Homo sapiens: one gene and its partners. The protein of the gene in region 6 purifies or fractionates together with the protein of the main gene of each other region. This does not show direct contact. Each region holds a gene or a part of one and is shown on either strand. Other genes may lie near its edges.

What was found.
Region 1: the proteins of CEP131 (region 6) and RASSF8 purify together in Homo sapiens (co-immunoprecipitation; one large-scale study listed by IntAct). This does not show direct contact.
Region 2: the proteins of CEP131 (region 6) and TTC16 purify together in Homo sapiens (co-immunoprecipitation; one large-scale study listed by IntAct). This does not show direct contact.
Region 3: the proteins of CEP131 (region 6) and P4HA3 purify together in Homo sapiens (co-immunoprecipitation; one large-scale study listed by IntAct). This does not show direct contact.
Region 4: the proteins of CEP131 (region 6) and PIBF1 purify together in Homo sapiens (affinity purification with mass spectrometry; one large-scale study listed by BioGRID and IntAct). This does not show direct contact.
Region 5: the proteins of CEP131 (region 6) and LPXN purify together in Homo sapiens (co-immunoprecipitation; one large-scale study listed by IntAct). This does not show direct contact.
Region 7: the proteins of CEP131 (region 6) and SPATA2 purify together in Homo sapiens (affinity purification with western blotting, with the first as the bait; one study listed by BioGRID). This does not show direct contact.

What each region holds. Positions count from the first base shown.
Region 1 is NC_000012.12:25,964,631-25,969,082, reverse strand, and holds part of RASSF8 (ras association domain-containing protein 8), read right to left. Parts: intron 1-4,452.
Region 2 is NC_000009.12:127,722,579-127,726,078, reverse strand, and holds part of TTC16 (tetratricopeptide repeat protein 16), read right to left. Parts: intron 2,961-3,500; coding exon 2,746-2,960; intron 1,960-2,745; coding exon 1,715-1,959; intron 1,324-1,714; coding exon 1,182-1,323; intron 1-1,181.
Region 3 is NC_000011.10:74,308,308-74,313,350, forward strand, and holds the start of P4HA3 (prolyl 4-hydroxylase subunit alpha-3 isoform 1 precursor), read right to left. Parts: upstream 3,334-5,043; 5' UTR 3,305-3,333; coding exon 3,105-3,304; exon of another isoform or gene 3,055-3,104; intron 1-3,054. UniProt on the Homo sapiens protein: Catalyzes the post-translational formation of 4-hydroxyproline in -Xaa-Pro-Gly- sequences in collagens and other proteins.
Region 4 is NC_000013.11:72,788,327-72,792,778, forward strand, and holds part of PIBF1 (progesterone-induced-blocking factor 1), read left to right. Parts: intron 1-4,120; coding exon 4,121-4,221; intron 4,222-4,452.
Region 5 is NC_000011.10:58,544,292-58,548,743, forward strand, and holds part of LPXN (leupaxin), read right to left. Parts: intron 1-4,452. UniProt on the Homo sapiens protein: Transcriptional coactivator for androgen receptor (AR) and serum response factor (SRF). Contributes to the regulation of cell adhesion, spreading and cell migration and acts as a negative regulator in integrin-mediated cell adhesion events.
Region 6 is NC_000017.11:81,215,984-81,220,435, reverse strand, and holds part of CEP131 (centrosomal protein of 131 kDa), read left to right. Parts: intron 1-362; 5' UTR 363-379; coding exon 380-556; intron 557-4,452. UniProt on the Homo sapiens protein: Component of centriolar satellites contributing to the building of a complex and dynamic network required to regulate cilia/flagellum formation.
Region 7 is NC_000020.11:49,904,935-49,909,386, forward strand, and holds part of SPATA2 (spermatogenesis-associated protein 2), read right to left. Parts: intron 3,659-4,452; 5' UTR 3,557-3,658; coding exon 3,221-3,556; intron 1,912-3,220; coding exon 685-1,911; 3' UTR 1-684.

The DNA of each region.
Region 1 (4,452 bases), on a different chromosome or scaffold from region 6:
TTTGCTCCCCCCAGCCTTACCCGCATGGTGGCTGGGATGTGGGTACACATGTGAGCACTGGCTCCAGGGCCTCTGCACTGTGCCCTCTATCTGGAGCGTTCTTCCTGTAGGCAGCCAGAGAGCTGGCTCCTTCATTTCATTAAGGTCTCTACTCAAATGTGCTTACATTAGCAAGGGCTTCCTATCCATCCAATATCAAATAACACCTCTACTCCCACCCCTAGCATTTTCAATCCCCCCACCTTATTTTTTTCTCTAAAGCATTTATCACCAAATAAATAAAGTGAAAATATTTGTTCATTTATTATCTCTCTCCCCCTAGTACAGTGTGCTCTCCATGCAAACAGGAGCTTTGTGTGTTTTACTCTCTGCTATATCCTCATTCATGGAGGGGCATGCAGTTTGGCTTTGAATGAACAACTAAAAGGATGAACAAACAGGCTGGGTGCGATGGCTCATGCCTGTAATCCCAGCACTTTGGGAGGCTGAGGCGGGTGGATTACCTGAGGTCAGGAGTTTCAGACCAGCCTGGCCAACATGGTAAAACCCCCATCTCTACTAAAAATACAAAAATTAGCTGGGTGTGGTGGTACATGCCTATAATCCCAGCTACTCGGGAGGCTGAGGCAGGAGAATTGGTTGAGCCCGGGAGGCGGGGGCTGCAGTGAGCCGAGATCGTGCCACTGCACTCCAGCCTGGGCGACAGAGCGAGACTCTGTCTCAAAAAAATAAATAAATAAATAAAAAATAAAGAACAAAGAAAGAGTGATGCCAAGGAAGCAACGTTTCAAGATGGAGGGAGACAGCCCAACAGTGTAAACATGCTGCAAACAACTTCAGTTATATTAGGGCTGAAAAGTTTCCACTGGTTTAGGCAATTAAGATATGGATGCCTGTGGCATGAAACGTTTCTAAGAAATGGTACCTGGCTGGGGAGTGAGTTGGCAGGTGAAGTAGTAGAAGCAATAAGCACAGACAACCCCTGTAAGAAGCTGGCTGAGAAAGGAGACAGCTAGAAGCAGCACCAGGGTCAATGGACTTGACATATTGTTTCCAGGCCCAAAGCAAAAAGTCAAGGAAAGGCGAGACTGAATTCGGGAGAGAGGATGGATTACTGATAGAGAAGGGCCCCGAAGACAGCGGGATCCAGGGTGTGCATGGTGAGGAGCTCTTCTCCCATCCTTGCATGACTTGAACAGACAGGGTTGTCTCTAACTCCAGTTCTCTTCAGAGCTACTTGCCTGGATAGACTGCAGAGGGGTCAGTGCCTGTCCTCCCCAGAGAGCAGAGGCCTGTCCTGCCTCCCAGTTCAAACAAAATGATTATTCAGAGTTCATGGAGTTGGGTAAGGGGAAGGCACTAACTCTCCACTGAGGTACTTCATATCCATTTGTTTCTGTATGTGGACATACATAAACATCTCCTTTATTTCAAAACAACCCAGAGTGAAGAATCAGTGGCCCCATTTAGACATTAGAAACTTGAGGCTCGATAAGGCTCACAACTTCTTCAAGGCTACACCTGTGTAGCCAGGCTTTAACTTAAGTGGGCACTCTTTCCAATCATGCCATTACTCAGCAGAATACAACAGGGGAAGAAACACATAATCAAGAATAGAAAAATTAAAATTAAGTGAATGATCTAGGTTGGGAGGTTTTCAAAGAAAAGTAATATAATTATCAATAGGAAACATTTTTTAAAAAGTGTATTTGAGATTAGTTAAAAGGGATAAGGTATGTATGTACCCTCATCACCAGACTTTATTATTATAACAGAGAGCAAATAACAAAAAAAGAAAGGAAAAGAGGGAGAAGGAATGTCTGAGTAGGAAAGCCTTCCACAAAGGCTATTGTAAGGAAACTAGAAATGTGATTAAACGTGACAAAAACACATTATCAAGTACTGGCTTGGAGATAGCTGCTTTTCATTTAGTTGGTCATCCAGCTGTGATAATTAACAATACTGTGTAATACCATGTGTATATCAACTGATACAATAAAAAAGGATATAACAGACAACTGATTTTTGACAAGGGTGCAAAGGCAATTCAATGGAGAAAGAATAGTCGTTTCAACAGTGTTGGAACAACTGAATTTCCATATGCAGAAAATTAACTTCCATCCATAACTCACACCATGTAAGAAATACAAAATGCATCACAGATCTAAATCTAAAACATAAAACTTCTAGAAGAAAACATAGGAGAAAATCTTTATGACCTTAGGCTAGGCAAAGATTTCTTAAATACCACACCAAAAGCCCAATCTATAAAAAACAAATTTATAAGTTGAACCTCATCAAAATTAAAACCTTCTGCTTTTCAAAAGTCACTGTTAAGAAAACGATGAGACACAAACTGGGAGAAATTCTTTGCAAAGCATATATTTGATGAAACACTTGTATTCAAAATATATAAGAATTCTCAAAATTTAATAATAAGAAAACAACCCAATAAAAACATCAGCAAAAGACTAGGACACTTCACCAAAGAAGATACAAAGATAGCATAAAAAACACATGAAAAGATTCTTTACATCACTAGTTGTTAGGGAAATGCAAATTAAAACCACAATGATGGCTGGACACATGGCTCATGCCTGTGATCTCAACACCGGGAGGCCAAGGTGGGAGGACTGCTTGAGGCCAGGAGTTCAAGACCAGCCTGGGCAACATAGCAAGACCTCATCTCTACAAAATAAAATATTTTAAAAAACAGCCGGGCATGGTGGCACATGTGTGTGGTCCTAGCTACTTGGGAACTATGACTGTACTACTGTACTCCAGCCTCGGCAACAGAGCAAGACCCTGTCTTTAAAATTAAAAAAATAAAAATTTTAAAAACCCACAATAAAATACCACAAATGTCTAAAAAAGACCAACTATGCCAAGTGTTGACAAGGATGCAAAGGAAACAGCATGTTTACCTGCTGGTGGTTAAGAATGTAAAATGGTACAATCACTTGGGAAAACAGTTTGGCAGTTTCTTAAAAAGCTAAGCATACACCTACCATAAGATCCAGCCATTCCACTCCTGGGTACTTACCCAAGATAAATGAAAGTATATGTCTATACAATACTTGTATGCAAGTATTCATAACAGCTTTATTTGTAATAGCCAAAAATTAGCAACAAATCTAATGTTCATCAATAGGTAGATAAATGAATTGCTGTGTACTCACACAATGAAATACTACTCAGCAATGAAGAGGAATAAACTACTACTACATAAATCAACATGAATGAATCTCCAAACCATTATTCTGAGTTTAAGAAGCCTCAACAACAAAAAAAAGTATATTACTGCATAATTCCATTAATCTAAAATTCCAGAAAATTTGAACTACTCTATAGTGACAGCAGACCAGTGGTTTAGAGGAAACGGGAGAATGAAAGGAAGATAAATTACAAAGGAGAATGAGAAAATTTGGGGTGGGCATGGTGGCTCTCGCCTGTAATCCCAGTACTTTGGGAGGCTAAGGTGGGCGGATCATTTGAGGTGGAGAGATAAGCCTGGCCAACATGGCAAAACCCAGTCTCTACTAAAAATACATAACTTAGCCAGCCATGGTGGCACAAGCCTGTAGTCCCAGCTACTCGGGAAGCTGAGGCAGAATTGACTGAACCTAGGAGGCAGTGGTTGAGTGAGCCAAGATCATGCCACTGTACTCCAGCCTGGGCAACAGAGCAAGACCCTGTCTCAAAAAAAAAAAAAAAAAAAAGAAATTTGGGAAAGTGATGTGGGAATGATTTCATGTGTATACATAGATCAAATCTTGTAAAATTGTACAGTTAGGTATGTGCAGTTTATTGTGTGTCAATGATATCTCAATAAAGCTGTTTAAGGCTGGGCACGGTGGCTCATGCCTGTAATCCCAGCACTTTGGGAGGCCGAGGCAGGCGGATCACGAGGTCAGGAAATCAAGACCATCCTGGCTAACATGGTAAATCCTGTCTCTAATAAAAATGTAAAAAATTAGCTGGGCGTGGTGGCGGGGACCTGTAGTCCCAGCTACTCAGGAGGCTGAGGCGGGAGAATGGCATGAACCCGGGAGGCGGAGCTTGCAGTGAGCCAAGATCGTGCCACTGCACTCCAGCCTGGACGACAGAGCAAGACTCCGTCTCAAAAAATATATAAATTAATTAATTAAATAAAGCTGTTTAAAAAAAGAAATATAAGGGAAGTCATTATACACTAAAAAGAAAAAATACAGCACAAATAAACTACTATAAGATATTCTGACATTTAACGTATTAGAACTTCCCATAGAAATGAACAAATTTTACCTTCAACATTACAAAACATCCCTATTTCTCACTGGTATTTTTACAGTAGAGTTTCATCGATTATAAATCCACTCAAATATTTTAAGCAAAAATAAGGGTAAAACCTTACTTTCTGCCCAATATCTATCCATTAAAGAGAATCCCAATTTCTTTTAAACATATATACTT
Region 2 (3,500 bases), on a different chromosome or scaffold from region 6:
GCCAACACTTCGATGCCAGTGTGAAACTCCAACATCAATGAATATCTTTATGATCTTGGGGTAGGGAAGGCGTTTCTGAGAATGGCATAAACCCATCGGCTAAAATGAATATATTAATTTGACTATGATTAAGTTCCAAGTTATTGAGTAGTAAAAATATCACAAAGAAAAGCAGTATAGGCCGGGCATGGTGGCTCACGCCTGTAATCCCAGCACTTTGGGAGGCCAAGGCAGGTGGATCGCCTGAGGTGGGAAGTTTGAGACCAGCCTGGCCAGCATGGTGAAACCCTGTCTCTACTAAAAATACAAAAATTAGCTGGGCGTGGTGGCAGGTGCCTGTAATCCCAGCTACTTGGGAAGCTAAGGCAGGAGAGTTGCTTGAACCCGGGAGGTGGAGGTTGCAGTGAGCTGAGATGGCGCCATTACACTCCAGTCTGGGCAACAGAGTGAGACTCCATCTAAAAAAAAGGAAAGCATAACGGAGAGAGAAGCTTTTTTTTTTTTTTTTTTTTTTTGAGACGGAGTCTCACTCTGTCACCCAGGCTGGAGTGCAGTGGCTTGATCTCGGCTCACTGCAAGCTCCACCTCCCGGGTTCACGCCATTCTCCTGCCTCAGCCTCCCGAGTAGCTGGGACTATAGGCGCCCACCACGACGCCCGGCTAATTTTTTGTATTTTTAGTAGAGACGGGGTTTCACCAGGTTAGCCAGGATGGTCTCGATCTCCTGACCTTGTGATCCGCCCGCCTCGGCCTCCCAAAGTGCTGGGATTACAGGCGTGAGCCACCGTGCCCAGCCTTTTTTTTTGGGACAGAGTCTCACTCTGTCGCTCAGGCTGGAGTGCAGTGGCGCAATCCTGGCTAACTGCCAGCTCCGCCTCCCTGGCTCAAGGGATTCCCGTGCCTCAGCCTCCTGAGTAGCTGGGATTACAGGCACACACCACCACGCCCAGCTAATTTTTAAATTTTTTTATATTTTTAATAGAGATGGGTTTCACCATATTGGCCAGATTGGTCTCAAACTCTCGACCTCAGGCGATCCACCTGCGTGGGGATTACAGGGATGAGCCATCGCCCCCGAGGAGAGAAGCAGCTTGATTGACCCAGGGATCCCAGCAGTTGGCCTCCTGCCCGCCCTGCCCTCGGGCCTGCCCCGCCCACCGTGGGGGCGGGAGCCCACGCACTTGCGCCTCTGCTCGCAGAAGCCCATCTTCTCCTGCAGCAGGCCCATGCGCGTGTTGGCGCCCTCGTCCTGAGGGCTCAGCGCCAGCGCCTGCTGGTAGTCCGCCTCGGCAAAGGCCAGGTTGCCCAGCTGGAAGAAGCAATCTAGGGTCCGGAGGCGGGGGTGAGTGGACCCCCAACTCCCAGTGCCCGGGAGCCCCAGCCCAGCCGGCTCCAGCCCGGGGGCCAGGGCCTGAAACTGGTGGCTGATAACCCCCCGCCGCAGTCTCCGTCCTCTCTAGTTTTCTGGGCGTCTGGGCACTGTTCCCCAGCTGCCTGTTTTGAGCATTTTAAGGAGTCTGGAGCCAGTTTGTCTAAGGCAACATTTCCCAAAGTGTGTTCCTGGGATACTGAGACTATTACATTTCCTCTTCCCTTGCTTCCTTCCTCTCTCCCTTCCTCCTTCCCCCCAGGGGCCTCAAGTGCCCAGTGGGGGCCTTAGAGATGGCGAGGCTCCCCCGCACCCCCCCTCCCCAGTGCCCTGGTCGCTGCGCACCGCCTCGGTTGATGTAGAGTCCTTTCTCCTGCTGCTCGTCCCGGAGGGCCTTGTTCAGCAGCAGCACGCCCTCCTGGTAGGCGCCCTGCCTGTAGCAGTGCACGGCAAAGTCGTTGTAGGTCAGCAACAGCTGGCGCTGTGCCTGCCGCACCATGTCCTCCTGGTCCTCGGTCACCATGTCCAGCACCTTCAGGAAGTCCTCCACTGCCCCATCGAACTCCTGGAGCCGTCGGTACATGGTGCCCCTGTCGGGGGGGGCGTGGGAGACGGCAGGAGGGACATGAGCGCCAGTGCACCCCCACCGACTGGCTAGTGGCCAGACAAGCCACTGCCGGCTCTGGGCCTCCTGACCCATGGAGGCAGTGGGGATCCCACCTCATTTGCTAGGTTTGTCCCGTGGGGCCAGCTCTGGACTGCTACTCAGATAACCCACTAGGCACTGAGCATTTTTTTTTTTTTGCAAAAATACCTTCTTTTTTGGGAGCCAGGTGTATGCCAGTCTCTACATTAAAGCATTTTGTACAAGAAGCAGGTGTTTTACCACCACTGTTTGGATAGGTTAATTGGCCCGAAATCACAGTGGCCTCTCATGTCACTGAATCACTTGTGGGATACTGAACCCAGCCCCTTGGCATAGGGAGAGATTGGCTGGGTGGACCGCCCCCTGGAGTCACTCCTGCCAGGGCAGCGGCACTCCCTCCTGAAATGCAGCAGGATGTGGTAAGTTCCTGGGACCAGACTCAAGCCTAAGTCTCCTCCACTGAGCTGGGCTCAGCGCCCAGCGTGAACTGCTTTGCAGGCTGCAGCTCTAGGATTCCTGGGGTAACTGAGACATGTGTTGGCATCCCTCTTCCAGCAGTAACAGAGACCACCTCTGCAATGCCTTAACCCAGTAGGAAGTAGGGAAAGACTGTTAGAGGCTAGCTGGGGAAACTGAGGCCCAGAGAGGGTCAGGGACTCTCCTTAAACCACACAGAAAGTCTGGCTGGGCAGGACCTGGGACCCAAGGCCAGCACCTTCCCATGCAGTACCGGAAGAGGAAGAGACTGGGGTCCAGAGGGTTGTTCTCGATGGCACGGTTGATCCGCTGCAGTGCGTGCTGCAGCTTGCCCTGCACAGCCAGGATCCCCGCATCTTGGCGCGCCTGCTGGGCCTGGGCCACCATCTTCTGGAGCAGCATCCTGGCCTGCGGGTGCTTGGGATTCAACAGCAAGGCGCTGTGCAGGTCCCGGTAGCAGAGGTGGGGCTGCAGGAGGCCATGGGTGGCATCAGGGGCACAGACCAACTGAGCCACGGGACCTAGAGGCCTTTCTTCAGCAGGGTGGCATCACACCATGCCTCCTCCGTGCCCCTCACATCCCTCCATGTTCCACCCTTTCTGCTTTTTTTTTTTTTTTGAGATGGATTCTCACTCTGTCACCCAGGCTGGAGTGCAATGGCGTGGTCTTGGCTCACTGCAACCTCTGCCTCCCGGGTTCAAGCGATTCTTCCACCTCAGCCTCCTGAGTAGCTGGGACTACAGGTGCGTGCCACCACACCTGGCTAATTTTTGTATTTTTGTATTATTTTTTAGTAGAGATGGGGTTTTACTATGTTGGCCAGGCTGGTCTCAAACTCCTGACCTTAGGTGATCCGCCCACCTTGGCCTCCCGAAGTGCTGGGATTACAGGTTTGAGTCTCCATGCCTGGCCCCTTTCTGCCTCTTGAAGGAGACAGGGAGCATCGTGGAGAAATTCCATCCCAGGCCCCATGCCAGCTGGCCCTTTCCAGATGTGACCTCAGGTGA
Region 3 (5,043 bases), on a different chromosome or scaffold from region 6:
TTCAAGACCAGTCTGGGCAAGAGAGCAAGACCCCGTCTCTACCAAATCAAACCAAACCAAACAAAAACAAAAACAAAAAAACCCTAGCCAGGCATGGTGGTGTGCACCCGTAGTCCTAGTTACTTGGTAGGCTTAGGCAGAAGGATCACTTGAGCCAGGGGTTTGAGGTTATAGTGAGCTATGATAGAGCCACTGCACTCTAGCCTGGGTGACAGAGCAAGACCCTGTCTCTTAAAAAGCAAACATTTCACTGGGTTTTAGAGCAGTCACTAGAGAACAGAATGACAGAATGACAGTCTTCAAAATATCAAACTAAACTACAAAATTAACTGTTCATAAGTCACCTGAGAAAATAATTGAGAACTTTTCTGATTTGTTTTTTTATCTAGGCTGTCACAATCCTAGTTAATACTTAGAGCCAAAAGTGGGGCCTAGTTTCACTAGATGGTCTTAAAATAAAATAAAATAAAATAATAAGCATAAAGGCTTAGCATTTGTCCATCAATTGTTACATGCCAGGTACAATGATAAAAACTTTTACATGGTACTCTTAATCCTTCCAAAAACCCTATGGTGGTAGGTACTATTTTTATCATCATTTTACAGATTAGGAAACTAAAGCTCAAAGAGGTAAAGTAACTTGTCCAAGATCAGAGCCAACGATTCAAATAGAGGTCTGTTAAACTCCTGAATTCACTGTTAACCACCATGTACTGTGGCCACTAGTAAAACCTCAATTAGTTAGGGGCTTGGTCTATGTCTTGGTATAACAGATAAAAGAAGTGGTAGGGATAACATAGCATAGTAGGAAAAAAGTTGGATAAACAATCAAAACAACTGTGTCCTAGTCCTGGATTTGCTACCTATTAGATTTATTAATACAATCTTGAGTGAGCAACTAGACTTTAGTTTTCTCATGTTTTAACTGATTTCTCAATAGTTAACAAGTGTAATACAAATCTATTTCAAAGCATTGTGTGTGAGAGAGAATCAGATGAGATATGGTTTGTATGAGACCTCCTGCTGTGACAAAGTTGTGATAATGACAGTGGTGGAAAGACAGTGAAGGAGACCAGCATGGTGGAATGGGGTTGGCCAGCTGCTTTGGCCAAAATGCTTCAAGTGCTCTCTTCTGAGAATGTAACCTGAAAGACCAGCAGGGGGATTTTGACCCCCCACTCCCGTCTCCATCTGAGCTACCCAAAGAGATTACTGGTATGAGAACAAGCATGGGTAGCAGGGAGAATGCTGGGCTCTGAAATCAAAGAGAAAAAATTCTGTCCTATTTCCACTAATAAGCTTGGACTCCAATGACTCTGGGCTATGAACAAAAAGAAAACATTTGGCTCGGTCAACATGGACCCATAGAATACTAGACAACTATGCTATTCCAAAGAGTGACAATAATTATTGAAATGATCTTCATTTATTGTTAAAATTAATACATACCTATATTGTATATTGTCACACTATTTCAAGCTGTTTATACGCAAGCCACATACTTAAGGACAAGCACCACATTAGCTCATTCAGTCACTATTAACAAGATCTCTCGCAAATACTTTCCACCCACAAAATGCTTCTCTTCTACATAGCTCTCTCTCACAGTCATGGGGTCACAAAGTTTCGCACAGGGTGACAATGGGTTTGGGGGTCACACTGGACCTCAGAGTCACTCCCCATTCCACATACCTTCTTCTCATGTCACCCCAGAATCAGTATTATTACCACACACACTCACGCAAAGTTTTAAAAGCAGTGCATTGTGCTGTCTTTGCTCAATGATAAGGTCACATGATATAAGTACAATATTAATATATCCAAATAGTGACGTGGTCATAACCACTCTGTCAGTGTTGTAGGCTTCTTGATGTCCCAGGCAGAGAAGGCGCAGCACATATTCATACAGATGGTATCATATACAATCATTTATCTTTCATTTTTGTCAGTTGGACACTGCTAAGTCGATACATGACTATGGTGCCTCAGCATCCCAAGTCTGACAACCTTTTATGCCACAGTGTGTAGCACTAGAGTTTGTTGACTGTACCCCAAAACTATATTAGCTGAGCATCCACTGCTGTGTGCTACACTCAGTATCTTCTGCATCAAGTATGTTTTTTCACAGTGCTTTTTTGATATCAAATATGTTGACACACATATAACATCTCAGTTATCATTTATTTAGTATTTAGAGAGCTTCTACATGTGTAAAGAGAAGGAAGAACTGAAGACGTAGACGGCAGTGGACATCTCTGATTAACAGTCATGGTGCTACAGACCCAAACTCCTCGAGGGCAGAGTTGGCTCTTGATCACCATTTTATCCCCACTGCCTGGAACACTGCCTGGCTCTTAGTAGGCACTCAAAAATATGTGTTGTATGAATTAATGAACTGAAGCATTATTCATATAGCGACCTGTACAGTTACTCAGCATCATTCACATGCAGAGTATGATATCCACAGTGTCGTGCCCATCCAGTCCCAATGACATGTAAACCTCACATATGGTGGAAGACTGTCACCTGACTCCTAACACTAAACATCAGCTCACTAGGTCATGCGGTGTTTCACGATCCCCCCTTGAAAGGTCAATACTTGCGTAGCTAAAGCGTCACCGTATTCTCTCCATGTCACTCTCACAGTGTCTCTGTCACAGCACCGTCCACTGTGTCTGTGTCAGTGTGACACAGGGCCTGGGGCTCACACAGCTTTGCACAGCACATTGTGAGGTCCTAGAGTCACCCCGCCCCGCTCTTCCACAGTGTATCAACTTTGCTGTGTGACGCTGGATATGGGGGGTGCCACTATGTGTGTGATGGAGTCTGCAGTCCCAGTGTGACCCAACCCTCGCCAACACCTCATGCCACGGAGTGTCAGGGTCCCACACAGGGTGACAATGGGTCTAGGGGGTCACACTGGCCCTCAGAGCCACTCCCCACCCCATGCCACAATGTCTCAGTCGCACGGTGCGACAGTGGGTCTGGGGTCCCACGCAGCATGACAATGAGCCTGGGGTCACACTCAACCTGAGTCACCCCACCCTGCGGCACAGTGTATCCCACTGAGGCCCCTCGGTCGCTCCCACTCGTCGTGCCCTCACCTAGTCAGGTCCCGCAGCCGCGCCTCCTCCCCGCGCAGGTACCGCCTCAGCAGCCCCAGCAGCCGGCGCTCGGGCGCCAGGGCGCGCGCCACGCTGGTCAGCGCCGAGAACGTGTCGCCCCGAGCCGCAGCCCTTTCTGGGTCTCCTGTCCCGAGCGCCAGCACCGCCAGCAGCGCCGCCAGCCGCGCCCCAGGACCCATAGCCAGCGCTCGCGAACTTCCCCTCAGACAGTCCTGGCCGCGCGGCGGCAGCCGCTCCCGCCCTCGCCTGCCCCGCCCCTGTCTCCGCCCCCTCCCGGCTCAGGCCCCGCCCTCTGGCCCCGGCCCGGCCCGTCCCGTCCACCGCCCAGTCTCGCTCCACGCCCCCTGACTCCTTCCTTGTTTCGACGCCTCACCTCGCTCTCTATTCCTCAGCTCCTCGGAATGCGTGGGGGCTTCCTGCAACATCAGTCTCCGCCGCCCTCCACTAAATCGCGACCCTGGGAAGGTGTTTCCACTGTGCCCATCACACTAGGGGAAATTGAGGCGGAGGCAGGGTGAGCGATGAATTCACAGGTCTAAGGCTGTGACTATCCCCAAATATTGTTAACACCACGCTCACAGGATCCCCAAAATATCCGCCCCTCTGTACCATGGAGTGGGAATACACAAACACCACTGGATCCCCACAGGGACGTCCAGAAGAGTCAATTATGCGTATGTGAATAGGTGCGCAGGCAAAGAGCGGCAAGAGGACAGCTGGGAGGAAAACCCTCACAGAGAGCGTGACATCTGAGCCATCTGAAGGATAAGTAGGACTGTGTCAGGATGTGAGTATATGACAAATCTAGGACTTACAGAACCTGAAGCTCTGGGGTCCTAAAGTCACTGCTTTACACAATATACTTAGAGTCACTTAAGCAAATAAAAATATTATTATTATTATTATAGCCTACTAGGCTATGTACTCTATTTCCCCCCTCTTATGCATTTCCCAGGCAATGTTCATTCATGCAACAAATATTTATTAGTACCTGTGTTACTGTGCTGCCTACACAGAGAAATAGCAGATCCAATCCTGGACTCAAAGGAGGAGACAGTTATGTAAACAAGTAATCACAATAAAGTGCTGTCAGAGTAACTGAGGGTTGTGCAATATGCAATGGCAACACTGAAGAAGGAACCCTCATGTAGTGGGTGGAGAGGGCATCAGAGAGGAGGTGATGGGTGCTGGTTCAAAAGGATGAAAAAAATTGGAAGTTGACAGGCAAGGGAGGAGTGGGCTTTCCTGGCAGAAGGTACATGGGCGTGACAAGGTTTGGAGGTGGAAAACAGTTTGAGTTCCAGAAATGATGAAAAGTTTCTTGTGCTTGAAACTATCAGATTGTGAAAGGTCTTTGCATGTCATACTAAGAAATTTAGGTGCTTGTCCTCTATGAAAATCCAGTGGAAGTTTTTAAGGTAGCAATAATTGTAATAACAATGGCAACAGTAAACATAGTAGTTAATACTTACCGGGTGTTTCCTGTGTGGCAGTCGCCATCCAGAGTATTTTACATATATTAACTCATTTAATCGCTGTCCAGAGTATTTTACATGTATTAACTCATTTAATTCTCATGCTGACCCTATAGCCTAAGTAATATTAGTATTCTTACAGTATTATTGGCCCCACTTTACCGATGAGAAGACTGAATTGTAGGGACAATCATTAACCTACTCAGTGTTAATCACTTGTGGACCACATTCGAGGTGTGCTGGTAAACCAGCTCTCCAGGAAAAAAATAAAGTTCTGGTTTGTGGCATTTGCCAATTTCTGTGGTGTCAATTCTCCCACAGTGGCTAATTTCGACATGCAAAAATGTCACCACTGACTGTGGTTGGATAAAGATGCCAACAACTCCTGTGAGCTGGGGTGAGCCAGCTCCAGCACACCACTGCTTGTGTAGACATGAGATGTA
Region 4 (4,452 bases), on a different chromosome or scaffold from region 6:
ATACCAGAGACTTGAAAAATGGTGGTTTCTGGTAACAGAGACCTGGAAACCATGGCTTAAGCAAGAGAAGGATTTTGTTTCTTTGGTATAACAAAAATCCAAAAATAGGTATTTTAGTAGACCTCAAGTGATTACTCCTTGATCGCATTAGGAACCCAGGCTCCTTTTAACCTTAGCTATTTTCAACATATGCTTTTCACCTGAAATCATAAGATAGCTTATCTGCCTCCAGTATTGTGTACATGTAAAAGGTGGTAATAAGGAGAAGGATAGTGGAAAAGGGGGCATGTGCCAAATGAGTCAGTCCTCTTTAAAGAGTTCTTCCAGAAGTTCAAGCCAGTGGCCTCAATTGACTAACATTGTATAGCATGACCACCCCTACCTACAAGGGATGGGAAGCTAACTGGACATGTTGTTACTAATAAAAACCAGAGTATGTCAGAAAGAAGGGAAGGTTTGATGTTGGGAGGCAAGTAAGTTTTTTCTTCTACCCATCAAAATCTTTTTTTAGTTAGAAAATATTTGAATCTAACATGTCCCACTCCATTGTGGCACCAATACAAATGGTTATGGATACATGGCTTTATTATAGTTTGTTACTAGGAATAGTCTTGGCCGTATTGATTTGAATTCTCCATGTCTAAAAACAGGAACAAGCAGGTCCAAGAACACTTTAAAAGCACTTCCCACTCAGCTGCTTGTTAACTGAAAGAATGTAGAAAAGCTACTCAGAAGAGTAGCTATTCAGGCCAAACTTCCTGATAGTAGAGCATTGTTAGCTTTACACTTTTATTTCCATCTATTGCTGCCTAGATTCCCTTCCTTACTGTACTTCTTTATTCCTTTCCTCTTCTCTGTTCTTGCCTTTCAAATTTTTAGACAGGGTCTCACTCTCTTGCCCAGGCTGGAGTGCAGTGGCTTGATCACAGCTCTCTGCAGCCTCAAATTACTGGGCTCAAGCAATCCTCTCATCTCAGCCTCTTGAGCAGCTGAGACTACAGGCGTGTACCACCACACCCAGCTAATTTTTTTAATTTTTTTGTAGAAACAGGGTCTCACTATGTTGTCCAGGCTAGTCTCAAACTCCTGGCTTCAAGCAATCCTCCCACCTTGGCCCCCCAAAGTGCTGGGTTTACAGCCTGAGCCACAGAATTGAGCTCTTTAAAATTTTTAAATGCCCCAAACTCTTTTTATTTATCTCTCATTAGAGATCTGTGGGTTCCTTATTACCTGGGAAATGAATACATTTCCCAGCTTGTCCTTGAGTTAAGAGACTCAATTTAGAAGTTAATTGAAATTATAAACATTGAAACCCTGAAAAAAATGTTTTTTTTTTCCTCGTGATACAGGTTGTTTCTTATCTAAAATGCTTGGGACCAGAAATATTTCAGATTTTTGATTTTTTTTTTAATTTGGGAATATTTGTGTTAGACCAGTTGAGCATCCCAGATCTGAAAGTCTGAAATCCAAAAGGGTCAACTGAGCATTTCCTTTGAGTGTCATAGTGACTCTCAAAAAGTTTCAGACTTCAGAGCATTTTGAATTTCAGATTTTAGGGTTTGGGATGCTCAACATGTAACAGTATTCTTGATTTGGGAAACAGTAATTATAAGGAATGTGTTTATTTTACATTTTATATTGATTTATTTATTGAGATGTTGCTGGATATATGCCAATGGATATGACAGAGGTCCCCCTTCTTATGGCCAAGACAGAAAATATTTTATGCTTTGTAGGCCACCTATGCTCTATCAGATTTTTCTTATGGGCTGGATTTAGCCCATCACCATTTTTTAATTCTTGCTTTAGACTATGTAGTCAGAAAAGCTATTGGCAAAGTTTAGCAGTTAAGAGTTACATGTCCTGATTTCTGTATTCAAAATGGCACTAAAATAATAGACTAAGGGCAGACAAGACAGAAACAGAAGAGTTACATTCCTAAGTTTTTGGCTTATTTAACTGGGGCCATTTATAAGAATGGAAGGCTGGGAGAAAACTGATCTGGGAGGTAAAATATATTAATAAGTTCAGTTTTGAAGGTGTAACTTATAGATTCCTAAATGTAATTGTCAGTTAGAGTTTAGGAGGAGTCCATCACACACACACACACACACACACACACACACACACACACACACTTATAGATAGATCACACACACCCTTATAGATAGATCACACACACACATAGATAGATAGATAGATAGATAGATAGATAGATAGATAGATAGATAGATAGATAAATCAGCATATAGGTGGCACCTAAAGCCATGGGATTGTATGGTATTTCCTAGGGAGAACAGAGGGCTATAAAGTAAGTCAAAGGGGTAGTCCAGCTGAGGAGCCTAGAAAGCTTAAGAGTATTTAGTGAGTTAAGAAAACTAGAGAAGAGTATCATGGAAGCTAAAAGAGAATGAAGTGGTTAGCTGTATCAAGTCATGCTGTCAAATAAGATAAATAGGCAGAAAAAAACAATGCACAGGACATTATGGACTTTAACAAGAATAGTTTCACTGGAATAGTATGGGGCAAAAACTATATTGAAGTTTTGCTCTGAAGACCAACAGAGAAATGGTGCTATAGCAAAGAGAATGATGTGATCAAGGGACCATTTGCTTGATGATAGAATGATTCAGTAGAGAAGAGGGACTTGACGATGCAAGAGGAGGGATTTACTTGCATATGTTATGGATTGGCTGTGAAATTCATGTATTTTTGTTTGTTTGTTTGTTTGTTTGTTTGTTTGTTTTAGATGGAGTCTCACTCTGTCGCCCAGGCTGGAGTGCAGTGGCATGATCTCAGCTCACTGCAACCTCCGCCTCCCGGGTTCACGCGATTCTCCTGCCTCAGCCTCCCGAGTAGCTGGGACTACAGGCACATGCCACCACACCCGGCTAATTTTTTGTATTTTTAGTAGAGACAGAGTTTTACTATGTTAGCCAGTATGGTCTCCATCTCCTGACCTTGTGATACACCCGCCTCATCCTCCCAAAGTGCTGGGATTACAGGTGTGAATCACCACGCCCTGCCTGAAATTCATGTATTTTAAGGGGCAAACAGGAATCGTCTTGGTTAAAGCAAAGGGAATAAAGAATTTTCTAAATAGACTAAGAGCAAAATCCAAGTGCTTGAGAAAGCACAGCATACTTGGGGGATGGCAAGCACTTAATATTGGCTGAAATGGAGTTTCCTTTTAAGCTAATGACAAAAGTAGTTGGCTAGATCAAGAAATACCACTGTATTATGCCACAGTGTTTAGAATTTATTCTGAGGACAGTGAGGATCCTCTGAAGAATGTAAAACTAGGAAAATAATTTTTTTTTTTTTGAGACGGAGTCTCGCTCTGTCTCCCAGGCTGGAGTACAGTGGTGCAATCTTGGCTTACTGCAGCCTCCGCCTTCCAGGTTCAAGTGATTCTCCTGCCTCAGCCTCCTGAGTAGCTGTGACTACAGGCGCCCGCCACCATGCCTGGCTAATTTTTGTATTTTTTAGTAAAGATGGAGTTTCACCATGCTGGCCAGGCTTATCTTGAACTCCCGACCTCAAGTTGTCTGCCCGCCTCGGCCTCCCAAAGTGCTGGGATTACAGGCGTGAGCCACCGCACCCAGCTGAAAATAAATTTTTGATAGCATTTTTTAAAGGTAAGATAGAGGAATATAAATTTGGAGGTTGGCAAAACTGGAGGCAGGAGGCCAGGCGCGGTGGCTCATGCCTGTAATCCCAGCATTTTGGGAGGGCAAGGTGGACTGATCACTTGAGGTCAGGAGTTCAAGAACACCCTGACCAACATGGTGAAACCCTGTCTCTACTAAAAATACAAAAATTAACCGGGTGTGGTGGCACTTGGCTGTAATCCCAGCTACTCAGGAGGCTGGGGCAGTAGAATCACTTGAACCTGGCAGGAGGAGGTGGCAGTGAGCCAAGGTTGCGCCACTGCACTCTAGCCTGGGCAACAGCACTTGGCCTTCCAAAGTGCTGGAATTATAGGCGTGAGCCCCTGTGCCTGGTCCCTCTATCCATTTTTAGCCTGTTTCTTTCAAGTGTTTTTAAAATATGTTTATTATGAAACTGAAAGTTTTTCTTTATGACAAATCATATAATTTATCTTTTTCTCTTTACGAAGATTGAAGAATTGGAGGAGAAACTTAATGATGCACTTCACCAGAAGCAGCTACTAACATTGAGATTAGACAACCAATTGGCTTTTCAACAGAAAGATGCCAGGTAAGAAAAGTTTTTTTTAAAAAAAAAACAACATCTATTTAGCAATTAAAAGTAATTTTATTGCCTGTTCATGTTTGTGACTGTAAGCTAAAATAGAGAAATTTTAAGTCAGAGATAGCAATAATTTTTACACCTAGACCACAAAAAAAGTAGGATACTTGATATGGTACATAAAATACAGAAAGTCAAAATTCAACATTCATTCAACAAACATTGGTCAGTGTAAACCAT
Region 5 (4,452 bases), on a different chromosome or scaffold from region 6:
ACTTGATAAAATGCAGATTGCTGGGTCTTCCACCCTGAGTTTTTGATTCAATGGGTCTGGGATGGGGCCCAAGATTTTGCATTTCTAACAAGTCCCCAGGTGATGCTGATGCTGCATAAAGCAAATGACACAAAACTGAGCTTGCCTATAGGTAGGCATTACTTGAGAAAACTGTAAGACATGCCAACTATCTGAGAAATGACCCTCATCTAGGCATCTGCTGGACAGCTGGTTTCGAGAGTGGGATAGCAGGGGAGTAACAGCCTCTGTTTCAACTTGGGTAAATCTCAGGAAAGAAATCAAAAGCAATCACCCAAACTTGCTGTGATACCCCTGCATTTCATAATCTAATAAATTAAGAAAGTTTCAGCTCTTGCTTTCTTGGAGGATCTCTTTGGGACCAATTACCTCTAGAGGAAGAATGAGAAATACTGACAATTAAAAGTGCCACAAAAAGAGGGAGAGTGTTTATACTCTGGTGAGGCTCTTAGCCACAGGGGAAATTAGGGAGCACCTGCATGACCTGGATAATGAACAATTAAAAAGAAACACAGGTAGACATTGAAGAGCTCATCCCTGTGGGAGGATGCCAAGGACCAATGACTTGAGCCTTAAAGAGGAATTCTTTGGACTGATGAAAAAATGCAGATGAATTTAATTTCCCAGGAGGCTCAGAGGTTAAACTGTCATTATAGAAACTCTTTGTGACTATCTAACTTGGGGTGAGGCAGGATGACACCTAATTAATGAACTGATCATATGGCAGGAGACCTTTTTACAGAAAGCCAGGCATAAAAAGGAAAATACAACCCAAGTGGAGCTTCTGATCAATAAATGTCACTTTTTGTCATGTGGCTCTATGTATAAATATGTTTTAAGTGTTGTTTCCTGTTTATATAAAGCCATAAATGACCCCATCAGCCCTGTCTGTTTAGAAGGGGCCTGAGTCAAGAAAATGAGAACTAGCTACCTTAATGGTGCTTTCTGGTCATCCTATGGATTGGGTATTTTTTTGTGTGTGTATCTAACTTATGTCTCTACCTGAAATGTGCCTATGTCCTGTTGTTCTGCTTTCAGGCAACTTCTCCATCATAATGATCCATAGGCAGTATTCACTTGTTGACTGTTGTACTCAACTAATTCTCAGACTTTTATGGCTACCAGTACAATATAAATTTATTGTGACACAATTTAAGATGATTTGGATTAAGTGTCAATGAAAAATGCTGCTTAGGTAAAATACCATCTAGAAATGAAATACCTAATGATTTGTGAAAAAGCATTGAGCAAGCTCCAGTGAACAAGCAAATTACTACAGAGCACTTTGCTAGTGGATTCTGTCAGCACCACTGTATCTGGGTCTATTGTCAAATAAAGCATATCGTGTTGGTACCACAAAAGTAAAGAGATCCAACAGCCGAAGAGGAATTGAATTTCAGTCAAAAGGCAGTTGTGATGTTTTATAAAAAACATGGAACTTGCAGAAATGATACCCAAGTTGAAATCTTGCCTCTTCAACTTTCTAACTGTGTGACTTTAAGAAAATCACTTTACCTACCTGAGACTCATCTATAACTAGGTAAAATGTTGAATAAACTTGCTCTCACAGACTGTGATGGCATCATATAAATTATTTTTAACCATATACATAATAATATGCCTGATATTTAGGAAAGTCTCCATATTAGTAAAAGGGCCTAAACACATGGGATTTTCTTTACTCCCTCCTGAAACATCATTAACATGACAGTTAAGAAATTATGTAAATTATAAAGAGCCATAAGGAAAGAGAAAAAAGTAAAGGATATGCCACCAGATGAGATATTAACTAAATTTTCAAGAATTTAAAGTAGATTTTAAGAGTGGTACCTGGCTTAACATAAATAAGAAAACTGGAACTTACGTCTCCACAGATGGGAGAGGCCAATAAAAATCAAGCCATCTTGAATATGATAACATCAGAGGGGCTCAGGAACTGAATGCATGAGATACTCTTCAAGGCTAGAAACAGGACTGGTTGAAAGTCTAAAGAACCATTAGAAAGTTAGATGCCTTATCTTACCGTAAGATGCAATGATTATTTCTGTAAATATTGAACAAGAGAGTCTCAGTGATCAGAGATGTTGGACACCATGAGGAAACGAGTCAAGCTCTCTACTGAAAAATGGGAATTAAGTAAAAGTTGACATGCTGAATGGTGAAAAGCCCATTCCCCCATCCCCTTTTTCAATCTCAGAATTCTGGCAAAGAGAACATCTCTTTAGCATAATTGACTCAACAGAAAAGACCTAAGATTGTCATATTCAGGAGTCACTCAACAAAATGGCCAGAGTATCTTACCTGAGTACCATATAGTCAAGTCTACCAGTCAACAATTTCTGTCTATATCCATGGAGTTTGCAATTAGCATTTTAGTGTCTCATTCTTAAATAGTAACAGACAACCATGGATCAGCAGTATTGGGAAAGACCAGTGTAAACAAATGTAAGGCACCAAGATGTAATATATATCAAATTCCAAATTGAACTGCAAAACATCCCTCCAAACAGGTAGTCAAAGATTACTTGTACAATTCTGGAATTCCTCACTCTTGTTCAGGAGAAAACAGGTAAAGAAAAAGGAAAACTGAGAGAAGGATTCCTTTGAAGAAAACTGTGCTATGAGTGCCCCATCACCACCAAGAAAGATGAGGTATAGTTCTTGATAACCTCAGGTTAAAAGAGGGACTTCACTGGGACGACTCAGAGAGTTGGATATGTGTGCCTTGGCATTAGTGAGATGCAGTTAGTGGTATCAGAGTTACCCCTGGAAAAAGTCCATAGATGAGTCTGGCTGAAAGAGCCTATGGCAGCTGAATAGAAACATGCAGCTAAAAATTATAACTCCACTGGCTGTCAGAGAAAAGAGTAAGTTATCCATGGTCCTTCTATGAAAATATGAGAGGAAGAGATTATCTGGAACGATGTTAATAATTTCTAAGGGTTCACTAGGAGGGAACAATGAAAGCCCCTTGAAAAAAGAATCTTTACAAAACAAATCCTCAAAGAAACATGACAAGGAGAGAATAGCTAGTCAAGACACGTAAAGGGCAATCAAGAGTTCACTGCTGGACCTGTCTTAATCCCGAAAAGAATTCAGGGAAAAAAGTCAGAGCTAAACACTGGCTGAGCCTGGAGAGCATAAAGCCAATTTAACAACAATCCTAGACAAGTTAGACCTTCCTGCCTTCTATTCTCATCTCCATCCTCCCTAGTGTTTCAACCCTAGAGCAGGCAGGTGTCAAGGCTGGCAATAAGGGTGAGGGTGGTAGATAACAAAGCGAGGTCAGGAGAGAGGAAAGGCCATACCCCTGTCCTCGCCTCCTGCAGCTTGAAGGTCCTAAAAAAGAGAGGGAGTGGCTGTCACTTTTAAAGTGCTGGAAGCCTTAACTATTACACAGACTGAATTACCTAATGGCTTAGTTTTTGTGTTTTGTTTCTTAAATTGATTTTATATTTAGAACTGTTTTTTAACAGTAATCAGAAAAGACAGAGGACTGCACAAGCTTTTATTTATGAGAGGAGAAATCCTTCCCCACTGAGTTCATTCTAAAAGGACAGGAGAAAAACAAAGTAAAGCAGCTTTCTGATTCCATATTTGTTCAAAACAAACATAAAAAGGAGAAATTAAAAAAAACAAGACAATTCAGAAAACACATGAAACAAACATACAAAGGGGGAAGAATGGGTCATGTAGAAAGGATCAAGGATAAAAAAAATTTAATAAAAACTTGCCAATCATGGAAGCTAGAAGACAGTGAAGCAATGTCTTCAGAATTATGAAGGAAAATAGTTTCCACTTAGAATTCTATGCCCAGGCAACTTAAGGGCAATGACAGAATAAAAATATTTTCAGATATTCAAGTTCTCAAAAATTCTTTCTCAGAAAGCTACTAGGGGATGTTCCCCACCAAAATAAAGGTGGTAACATGTATAAAACATAGACATGGGACCCAGGAAACAGAGCATCCAAAGAGGAAACTAATAAAAGGAATTTCCAAGAGTAATTACTAGATATAATTCTAAGTTAATGAACCAGAATGACTGCTACTCAGCAGGAAGAAATCATTTCATGTTGAATCAGGAGGAGGAAAGTCTCCTGGAGGGATATCTCCAGAAAAAAAAAAAAGAAAAGAAAGAAACTGACTTGTTGCCAGATGTAGTTGGCCATTTTGAAAAGAATTTCACAGTTCTGTTGCATAACTTAGTGATAAGTACAATAAAAACTAAGCCAATTTCAAAAAGGATTCAAATGTTAACTTTAGAAAAAAATGAATTTATACCAAAAGGACACTGTGATAATAATATTAACACTACTATACCTCCATGTGCTTGGCACTATTCTAAATACCACGCTTGTATTGTCTCTAAATCCTCATAACAACCCTATAAGGTAGGCAATTTCATTAGGACT
Region 6 (4,452 bases):
TCTCAGAATCACGGTGTGGGGTAGATGGCAGAACCTGGCTCACATCGACAATGGCCTGTGGCCCAGGCTCCCTCTGGGGTGCTGCTGGCTTATTCCCACCCACGGGCCTTGCCCTCGCCACCCACCTGTCCATCATCCAGGGCCCTCCTGCCCTGGCATACACTGACATTGGGCTCAGAACAGCTCCCTCATGTTCCTGTCGAGGAGCCTGCCACCAGCCAGAGGGGTGCATAGGTTGTGACAGGCCTTCCCAGGAAGTTTGGTGGCCAGTGGACCCAGCTGAGGCTGGGCTGGAGATGGTGGGTGCAGGGGACTGTAGTTCCCCCACGGCATCTCATTGCAGCTCTTGCTTCCCCGCTCAGGACCTGCCTTGTCCACCATGAAAGGCACCCGGGCCATCGGCAGCGTCCCGGAGCGCAGCCCAGCAGGTGTGGACCTGAGTCTGACAGGTCTCCCTCCGCCTGTGTCCCGGCGTCCTGGCAGTGCCGCCACCACCAAGCCCATCGTCCGCTCTGTCTCCGTGGTCACAGGCAGCGAGCAGAAGAGGAAGGTGCTGGTGAGTACTGTGGCCTAGGAGTCCGGGCCCCTGCCTCCTGGAGGGCTGTTGTTCAGTTGGCATCTGACCCCTGGGTCCAGCTCCACAGGTGAACAAGTGCCTCACATCTGGACATGCTGGATCCTCGTGGCTGTTCCAGGAGGCAGGTAGGACTTGAGTCTTACAGGCGTGGGTGCTGAATCACTAGAAAGTCAAGCCAGAGCTTGGATTCTTTCAGCAACAGCCCCAGGCCTCCTGTGCCACCGCCCTTTGGATTTGTTTGAATCCTCAGGAAATGGGGTTGGCTGGGCTCGGTGGCTCACGCCTGTAATCTCAGCACTTTGGGAGGCCGAGGCAGGCGGGTCATCTGAGGTCAGCAGTTCAAGACCAGCCTGACCAACATGGTGAAACTCCGTCTCTACTAAAGATACAAAAAAAAATTAGCCGGGCATGGTGGTGCATGCCTGTAATCCTAGCTACTCGGGAGGCTGAGGCAGGAGATTTGCTCGAACCCAGGAGGCAGAGGTTGCGGTGAGCCGAGATCGTGCCGTTGCACTCCAGCCTGGCGACAGAGTGAGATGCCATCTCAAAAAAAAAAAAAAAAGAAAGAAATGGGGTTGACCTGTGGGGAGGGGTGATGAGCTCCTGGTGGCCTTGGAGAAACCTAGACGGGTGTGTGGGTGTGTGGGCAGCAGGACAGCCGTGGGAGCTTCGGGGTGAGAGCTGCCTTTCCTGCCCACCTCTGGGAGTAGGGAGGAGGGTGGGTGGTTCCCAGATGGGGGCTGTGAAAGGCAGGCCGGGCCTGCTGCACCCTGAGTTGGTGTCTGCCAGGCCCAGTCTTTGGGGCAAGGGAGGAATCGAGCCGCTCTGTGGGGGTTGGGGCAGAGCCTGACCAGAGTCTGGCCTGAGCTTCCGAATAGCAAGGGCCTGGGGGCCTTGGCTTCCATGCGGCAGCCGGTCTGGGGCTCCCTGCCTGAGGTCCGTGCCAGGCAACATAGCAGGGCAGAGAGAAGGGGTCTGGAGGGCAGTTGAGGCTTCCCACAGGAACCCCTGGCAGGCCCAGGCCAGGGTTCCACTGTGAATAAAAGGCTTGGACCTCCCCCTTCTCCTTGAAAAAGTTATTCCTGTGTCTGCCCTAGAAGCACCCCCAGGTGGGCAGGGTGTGGCCCGCCAGACGGCTAGCCGAGTTCCGGGGTAAGGGCAGCCGGGCCAGTAGCGGACCCTTGGACCAAGCAGGTTCCCAAAGCCTGGGCCAGCAGGGCGGGGACCCGGGATGTCCTGATGTGTCATTGTGGCCGGCAGGTTGTCTAAAGATGTGGTACGCCTCTAGGCATTTACAGACGTAAGCTGTGAAAATAAAAATATGCTGCACTGTTTTAGCAGAGGGGTAACCAGCTTGGGCTAGAGCCGTCTCTGAGCCTGCTGCCTCTCCTGTCCGCAGCCCTGCTCCTGCGTCACTGACCCCCTCGCCCACCTGCCTTGGCCCCTCCCGCTGTTTCTAAAGCCCTAGGTTCATGGCACATGGGGCGGGGAAGACGCACTCGAAATCGCAGATCTGGGCTGGGCGAGGTGGCTCACGCCCGTGATCCCAGCACTTTGGGAGGTTGAGGCGGGTGGATCACCTGAGGTCAGGAGTTCAATACCAGCCTGGCCAACATAGTGAAACCCTGCCTCTACTGAAAATGCAAAAATTAGCCGGGCGTGGTGGCGCGCACCCTTAATCCCAGCTACTCAGGAGGCTGAGACAGGAGAGTTGCTTGAACCCGGGCGGAGGAGGCTGCAGTGAGCCGAGATCATGCCACTGTACTCCAGCCTGGGCGAAAGAGCAAGACTCTGTCTCAAAAAAAGAAAGAAAGAAAGAAAGAGGGAGGGGGAGGGGGAGGGAGAGGGAGAGGGAGAAGGAGAAAGAAAGAAATTGCAGCTCTCTTGTTGTGTGGAGACTGTTGTAAAAGTTTCCGGGCTTTCTAGTAGATGGTCTTTCGGCGGCATGGCCAGGCTCTATCCGCGGCCGACCCAGGCACCTAACCACACTCCCAGCCTTTCTGCTGGGAAATGTTCTGTTGCTGAGTAGAGGTTCAAAGCCACAGCGAGCGCTACTCATATCGATCCCTCCTTTCCTCGGCTGGTACCATTGCCCGCTCCCGCAGTGTTGAGTGGCGACTGCTAACAGTCCCCTCGTTCATGGAATGTTCCAGCTGTTCACTTCAATTCTTTGAGGCCCTCGCTCGATCCGAGACGGCCCCACCCCTGCATGCCTGTCTGCCTTCTGTTGTGCCCATGGTGGGAGCTCGGGAACTGCTGGTGGAAGAGGAACCCCCGCCAGTGTGTGACGTGACCTCAGGGGTTTCTGTTGTGCCCGGTCCCCATCCTCTCGGCCACCTGCCCTGCTACCACTCAGTCTCATCGGGATTCCTGGAGAGCATTTGTTTTGGCCAGGCATGGCTTCACACCTGTACAAGGCGGCACGTGATTCTCTTCCTCCTGGTGTTTGTGGGTGGGGTGGGGTGCTGTCCCCTGGCTCGGAGACCTTCTCGGTGGCCATTGGCCTGGGGTTTCCACTCTACCCCTTGTCTCTAAAGATCTTCCTGCGTCCACGGCCTGCTGTCCCGGGATTCCCCATCCAGGATGTAACTGCAGTTCCTGCTGGTCTTCTGGCTCAAGAGATGTCGGTGCCAGACTGTAGAGGGTCCCTCTTCCTTGCCCCAGCTGTGTGCCCACCTGATCCTCTAGCCCCCTAGATCATTATTCACTCTGGTTCCCTTCCCCTTAAAGAAAAGAGGTCTTTAAATCCCAAGAGCACAAGCTCACTGGGGAACAGACATCACTGTGCATATGTGTCATGGCCATGGGGGCCACCTGCCCCTCCCTGGGCGATGTTGCCTCCTTCTTGCAGGTGGAGTTTAGGGTTTTTAGTCCATGACTTGATTTACCATCTGAGCATGAGTGGTGCCTTTCCACCGTGGTGTCCGTCAGTGAGTGGCAGCCCCTTCATCCCTCCCCTGACATCCCTTATCTTCCTCTTGGAGGCTGCGAAACTGACCCCAGGAAAATGGAGACAGGATGAAGGGCACCCATAATCCCATGGCCCTGATGCAATGACTGGTGCCATTTTGGGGGATGATTTCAAAATTCCTACCATGTGTTTTGAATAGGCCATTCACACCCACCATTTGGGAAAAGGGGGCTCATTGAGCAGTGAGCCTGTCCTGCCCGACCTTGCGGGCCTCTCCTAGGCGGCCACTGTTCTGTTTCTCCTGCACCCACACTTACTCTGGGCACACAGGCATCAGTGATGCTGGAGATGTGTTGGAACAAGTGCCGTATCCGTCAGCTGCGTGGGGCTCCTGCATTCTCTTTTCTTTTTCTTTTTAAGACGGGGTCTTGCTCTGTTGCCCAGGCTGGAGTGCAGTGGAGAAACCACAGCTTACTGCAGCCTCCACCTCCCGGACACAAGTGATCCTCTTACCTCAGCATCCTGAGTAGCATGGATTACAGGTGCTCACCACCCTGCCCAGCTAATTTTTAATTTTTTTTTTCTTTTGAGACAGACTTTTGCTCTTTTTGCCCAGGCTGGAGTGCATTTGTGAGATCTCGGCTCACTGCAGCCTCTGCCTCCCGGGTTCAAGGGATTCTCCTGCCTCTGCCTCCCAAGAAGCTGGGATTACAGGCATGCACCACCATGCCCGGCTAATTTTGTATTTTTAGTAGCGACGGGGTTTCGCCATGTTGGTCAGGCTGGTCTTGAACTCTTGACCTCAGGTGATCCTCCTGCCTCAGCCTCCCGAAGTGCTGGGATTACAGGTGTGAGCCACCACACCCAGCCTACTAATTTTTAATTTTTTTGTAGGGACAGGGGTCTCACTAGGTTGCTGGTCCTTAACTCCTGGGCTGAAGCGATCCTCCCACCTCGGCCTCCC
Region 7 (4,452 bases), on a different chromosome or scaffold from region 6:
GAAGCCCACACATCAGTGTGTTGGAGCAAAGTTCACGAAGGCCATGGGCTGACTGAGCTGTGGTGTACGAAATGACATTCAGCTAATACTGGACTCGGTTCACCTTTGACACCTGGAGAGGTGGGGAAGCCAGGGGGTGGGGAGTCCAGCTGGGGATCCTTGTGTTTAGGAAGGGGGCGGCCAAGGGATGAGCCTTTGGGAGAGGCCCCGTGTGGCAGGAGGGCTCATTTCACAAGCCAACAGGCCTCTAGCTCGCCGCTCCAGGTGGATGTTTGGTGACCTGAAGGGCCCTTCCCAGTCCAAGTTGGCTTTGCAATGGGAGGGGTAGGTGCAGCGAGGGTCCCAGAGACAGAAATCCTCTTTAAAGGAAAAAACAAAACAACAAAACAAAACAAAACAAAACCCCAAAAAAAGAACCAACTGAACAGGGAGTGGAGAGATTAGCAAAATGAATCTGAACGGAAGTGCCACCTTCTCCCTTGTCAGACAACAAAGCAGCCATTGGTTGAGATATCTGAGTCGCTAAGTGAACTCCCACGTGGACACAGCCAGCCCACGATCTCTGCCACCTACATGGTCAAGTGCAGGCCTCCGCCTCTGAGATCAATGCGTTAGTACTTCTTCACCGTGAAACCCGAAAGGTCGGTTGATGTAGCCCTTGGAGCTGGAAGGGGCGAGGCCGGTCTATCTGTACACGAGATGGGAGAGCTGGGTGGACTTGTAGTTCAGCTGGTTGTTGGGCATGAACTTGTGCAGCTCACTCTTTTTGTAGCAGGGGTCATAATGGTAAGCGCTGAGGCAGGCGTCACATGAGACTTTTGAACACTGGGTGCAGGTGTTGGTGGCGCCTGGGCGGTTGCAGAAGCCACAGCGGGAAGTGGGCGTGGTGGAGGGCTTGGATTTGGAGTGAAGGTGCGGGAGGCGGTCGAGGCCCTGAGTCTGGCCTGGGTACTTCTCCCGCAGAGATGCCCCGTGGGCCAGGCTGTCATGAGTCGAGGCCTTGCTGGGGAAGGCGCTGGGCTTGGAAGCTGGAGGACAGGTGAGCAGGCTGTCACAGCGCTGGCAGAGGGAGGAGCTGCAGGACAGCCCGCAGCTTTGGCACTTGGAGAGGGCGGACTCTTTGGCAGGGGGCGAGCGCTTGTGGTAGAGGGAGTGGGCATCGTTTCTGAGCAGCCACACATCCGGCCGCAGAGCATCCTGCCGACGGTAGGTGGCCCTGGGTTCAGAGTCTGTGTACAGATCCACGTCATCCTGAGTGGAGAAGTAGGTACCGCGCAGCAGGGCCGGGCCGTTGCTGGGGGAGGCGGGTGGAAGCACATCCGGGCTGCCGTGGGGGGAGCTGGCCATGGTCAGCAGCGAAGGGGATGGGCGGATGATCTCATCCTTGAGGTCGTCCCCCACATCCGTTGCCACAGGCTCCTTCCGAAGACTCAATGAGGCCTTCAGGGGTGGCTTCCGGCTCTCCCAGTAGCTGTCATAGGCATCCACTGACCTCGAGGGCTTGGTCACGCGGGGCTTGTAGTAGTCCTTGGCCGCCCGCTCGCTGGCCGACTTCTGGAGTGCCACTCGTGACATGGAGGCCGTCAGGTGCTCCCGGCCCTCTGCCCGCCGCCGCAGGGCGTCCGAGCAGCCGCGCACATCCTCTGCACTGCTCTTGCGCTCGCTCACAATGTCCAGCTCGGAGTAGCCCTTGTCCTTCACTTGTGAGTGGATTTCTAGCATCTGCTCACACTCGACTTTGGCCAGAAAGAGCTCAAAGGAGACCATCTTCACCTGGAGGGTCTCCACGAGCTCTCTGAGCTTGTATGCAGTGCCCAGCTCAGGTGTGTAGCCCATGCAGCTCAGGATGGCTCGGATGTCCTCTTCCAGTAATGTCGACTTGACATAATAAACAAAAGGGCCCGTGTAGGTCTAGAAGGGAGGGAGTAGAAAAGAAAGGTGGGGTTTTCTGTCAGAGACACAAGACAGAGACTATGTCAAAGCAAAGGATGTCCAGCTCTGAAGTGGGGCGGCGGGGAGAGGGCAGGGCAGGGAAGGATCTCGACAGCCTCACCCTGCGGGAGGCAGAAGACGCAGGAGCTGGGGCTTGCTAAGCACTCAGGAATTGTGCAAGGAAATGACCCAGCAGCTCCTTTCTTTTGTTTGAGACGGAGTCTCGCTCTTTTGCCCAGGGTGGAGTGCGGTGGTGCGATCTTGGCTCACTGCAACCTCCGCCTCCTGGGTTCAAGCGATTCTCCTGCCTCAGCCTCCTGAATAGCTGGGATTACAGGCGCCCGCCAACACGCCCAGCTAATTTTTCTGTTTTTAGTAGAGATGGGGTTTCACCGTGCTGGTCAAGCTGGTCTCAAACTCCTGACCTCGTGATCCACCCGCCTCGGCCTCCCAATGTGCTGGGATTACAGGTGTGAGCCACCGCGCCTGGCAGCAGCTACTTTGTTAAACACAGGAAGCAAAACCTCTCGCTTCCTAGTGGGGCACGAAGACTCTACTCCATATGAAGAGAGAGCCTGGGCAAACATGGCTGAATAAAGGGGCCAGATTACAGGCAGAACGCGGTGACAATCAGAACGTTCCTCTCTGGTATTTCCATGAGGGGCTGAGTAACACGGCAGACTGAAGGGCCTGGCTAGGTGACAGCTCTCCTGTGCCATCCCCTCTCTTGATTACCACTCCTCCCATGGCAGAATGAAGAAGCCTGGCTAGGTGACAGCTCTCCTGTGCCATCCCCCGCGTGGTCTGATTCAGGATCCCTCTCTCAATTCCCCCTCCTCCTCTACTGTTCCCACTTAGTACAGAACACCCCTCAGCTTGCTGGGACCGCTGAGAAGCTTCCTAACTGCTCTCCCCATCCCTCCCACCTCCCCCCACCCCTCTACAGCCTACTTCCCATACCACAGCCAGAATGACCCTCTTCAGATGCAAGCCAGATCCCACACTGCCTCCTTCCCCGCCTACTCAGAACAAATCCAAGCCTTGCCCTGGGCCACAAGACCCTGCATAACCTGGCTGCCCCTGCCTTCCCAGCTTCTCTGCTTAAGGTGTGGCAGCCGGGCCAGAAACGGTTCAGAGGTGATGCTGGAGAGACGGGGAAGGTTCGGAGCCCGGAAGGATCTGAGAGCACAGGATGGATGGGATCAGACTGGCATAGCCTCTCAGGAGGGACTGCCAGGGGCAGGAAGAGAGAAGGAGGGCCTGTATGGAGGCTGCTCCAGGACCTCACCTTGATGCTTCTGAATTCCTTCTTCCACGGGTAGAGGAAGAGGTTGATGCCCACCGTCTCCAGCATGCTGAAGGCGCCGTGCAGAGCCCGCAGGCTAGAGGAGCTGAGCGAGCGCAAGGAGCTCTCCACCACCTCATAGAACTGGATCAGCCGGAATCGATAAAAGGGATCCACCTTGTGCAGGCTGAGCAGGGTTGAGGCTGCCACCCGCAGGCACTCATCGCTGCCAGGCCGCTGCCTGCTGGTGGTGGTATCCACTTTGCTCTCATGGAACTGCACGTACTTCCGAAATAAGTCATCCTTGAATTTAGTATCCATTGAACTGGGCTTCCCCATCCGATCGAGGGGGGCTACCTTATCTCCTCCATGGCTTCTGGATTAGAGGCAGGGACATCACTAAAAGCATGGACATGTTGCCGCCTGGACCAGCGGAGTGCTCTGGAAGGAGGGGAACAAGAAGCATGTCATTCCTCGATACGGTCGCGCTTCGGCTTCAGGTCGCTGAGGCAAAATGAACAGCAGAACTGGCCTGGGCTACACTGGACCCCAGCAGCACACTACAGAGCATGTACTACAAGCAGGGTTACAACAGAGGCCAGAGAGAGATGGACCTTGACTTTGTTGTGCTCACAAATGAAAAATACGATTAATATTCCTGAAAGAGAAATTCGGGTGAGTACAGCAGGAGCTCCTGTCCTGGTTTCGTTGGGGAAGGGCGAGTTTAGGAAAGCCCTCTTGAGACAGCAACAGACCTGAAGGATGAGGAGTCTGCCAGGCCAAGAGGCCGGGGAAGGAGTCGCAGTAGAGGAAGGCCCTGAGCTAATAGTACCAGAGGCTCCAGACACGTGACGAGCTTCACACACACTAACTCGCTTACTTTTTTTTTGAGATGGATCCTTGCTCTGTAGCCCAGGCTGGAGTGCAGTGGCGTGATCTCAGCTCACTGCAACCTCCGCCTCCCGGGTTCAAGCGATTCTCCTGCCTCAGCCTCCCAAGTAGCTGGGATTACAGGCACCTGCCACCACGCCTGGTTAATTTTTGTATTTTTAGTCAAGATGGGGTTTCACCATGTTGGCCAGGCTGGTCTCGAACTCCTGACCTCAAGTGATCCACCAGCCTTGGCCTCCCAAAGTGCCAGGATTACAGGTGTGAGCCCCCATACCCAGCCTCACTTTTTCTTCTTAAACAATCCTAGGAGAGAGACGCTACAGGCAGCCCCAGTGGACCATGTG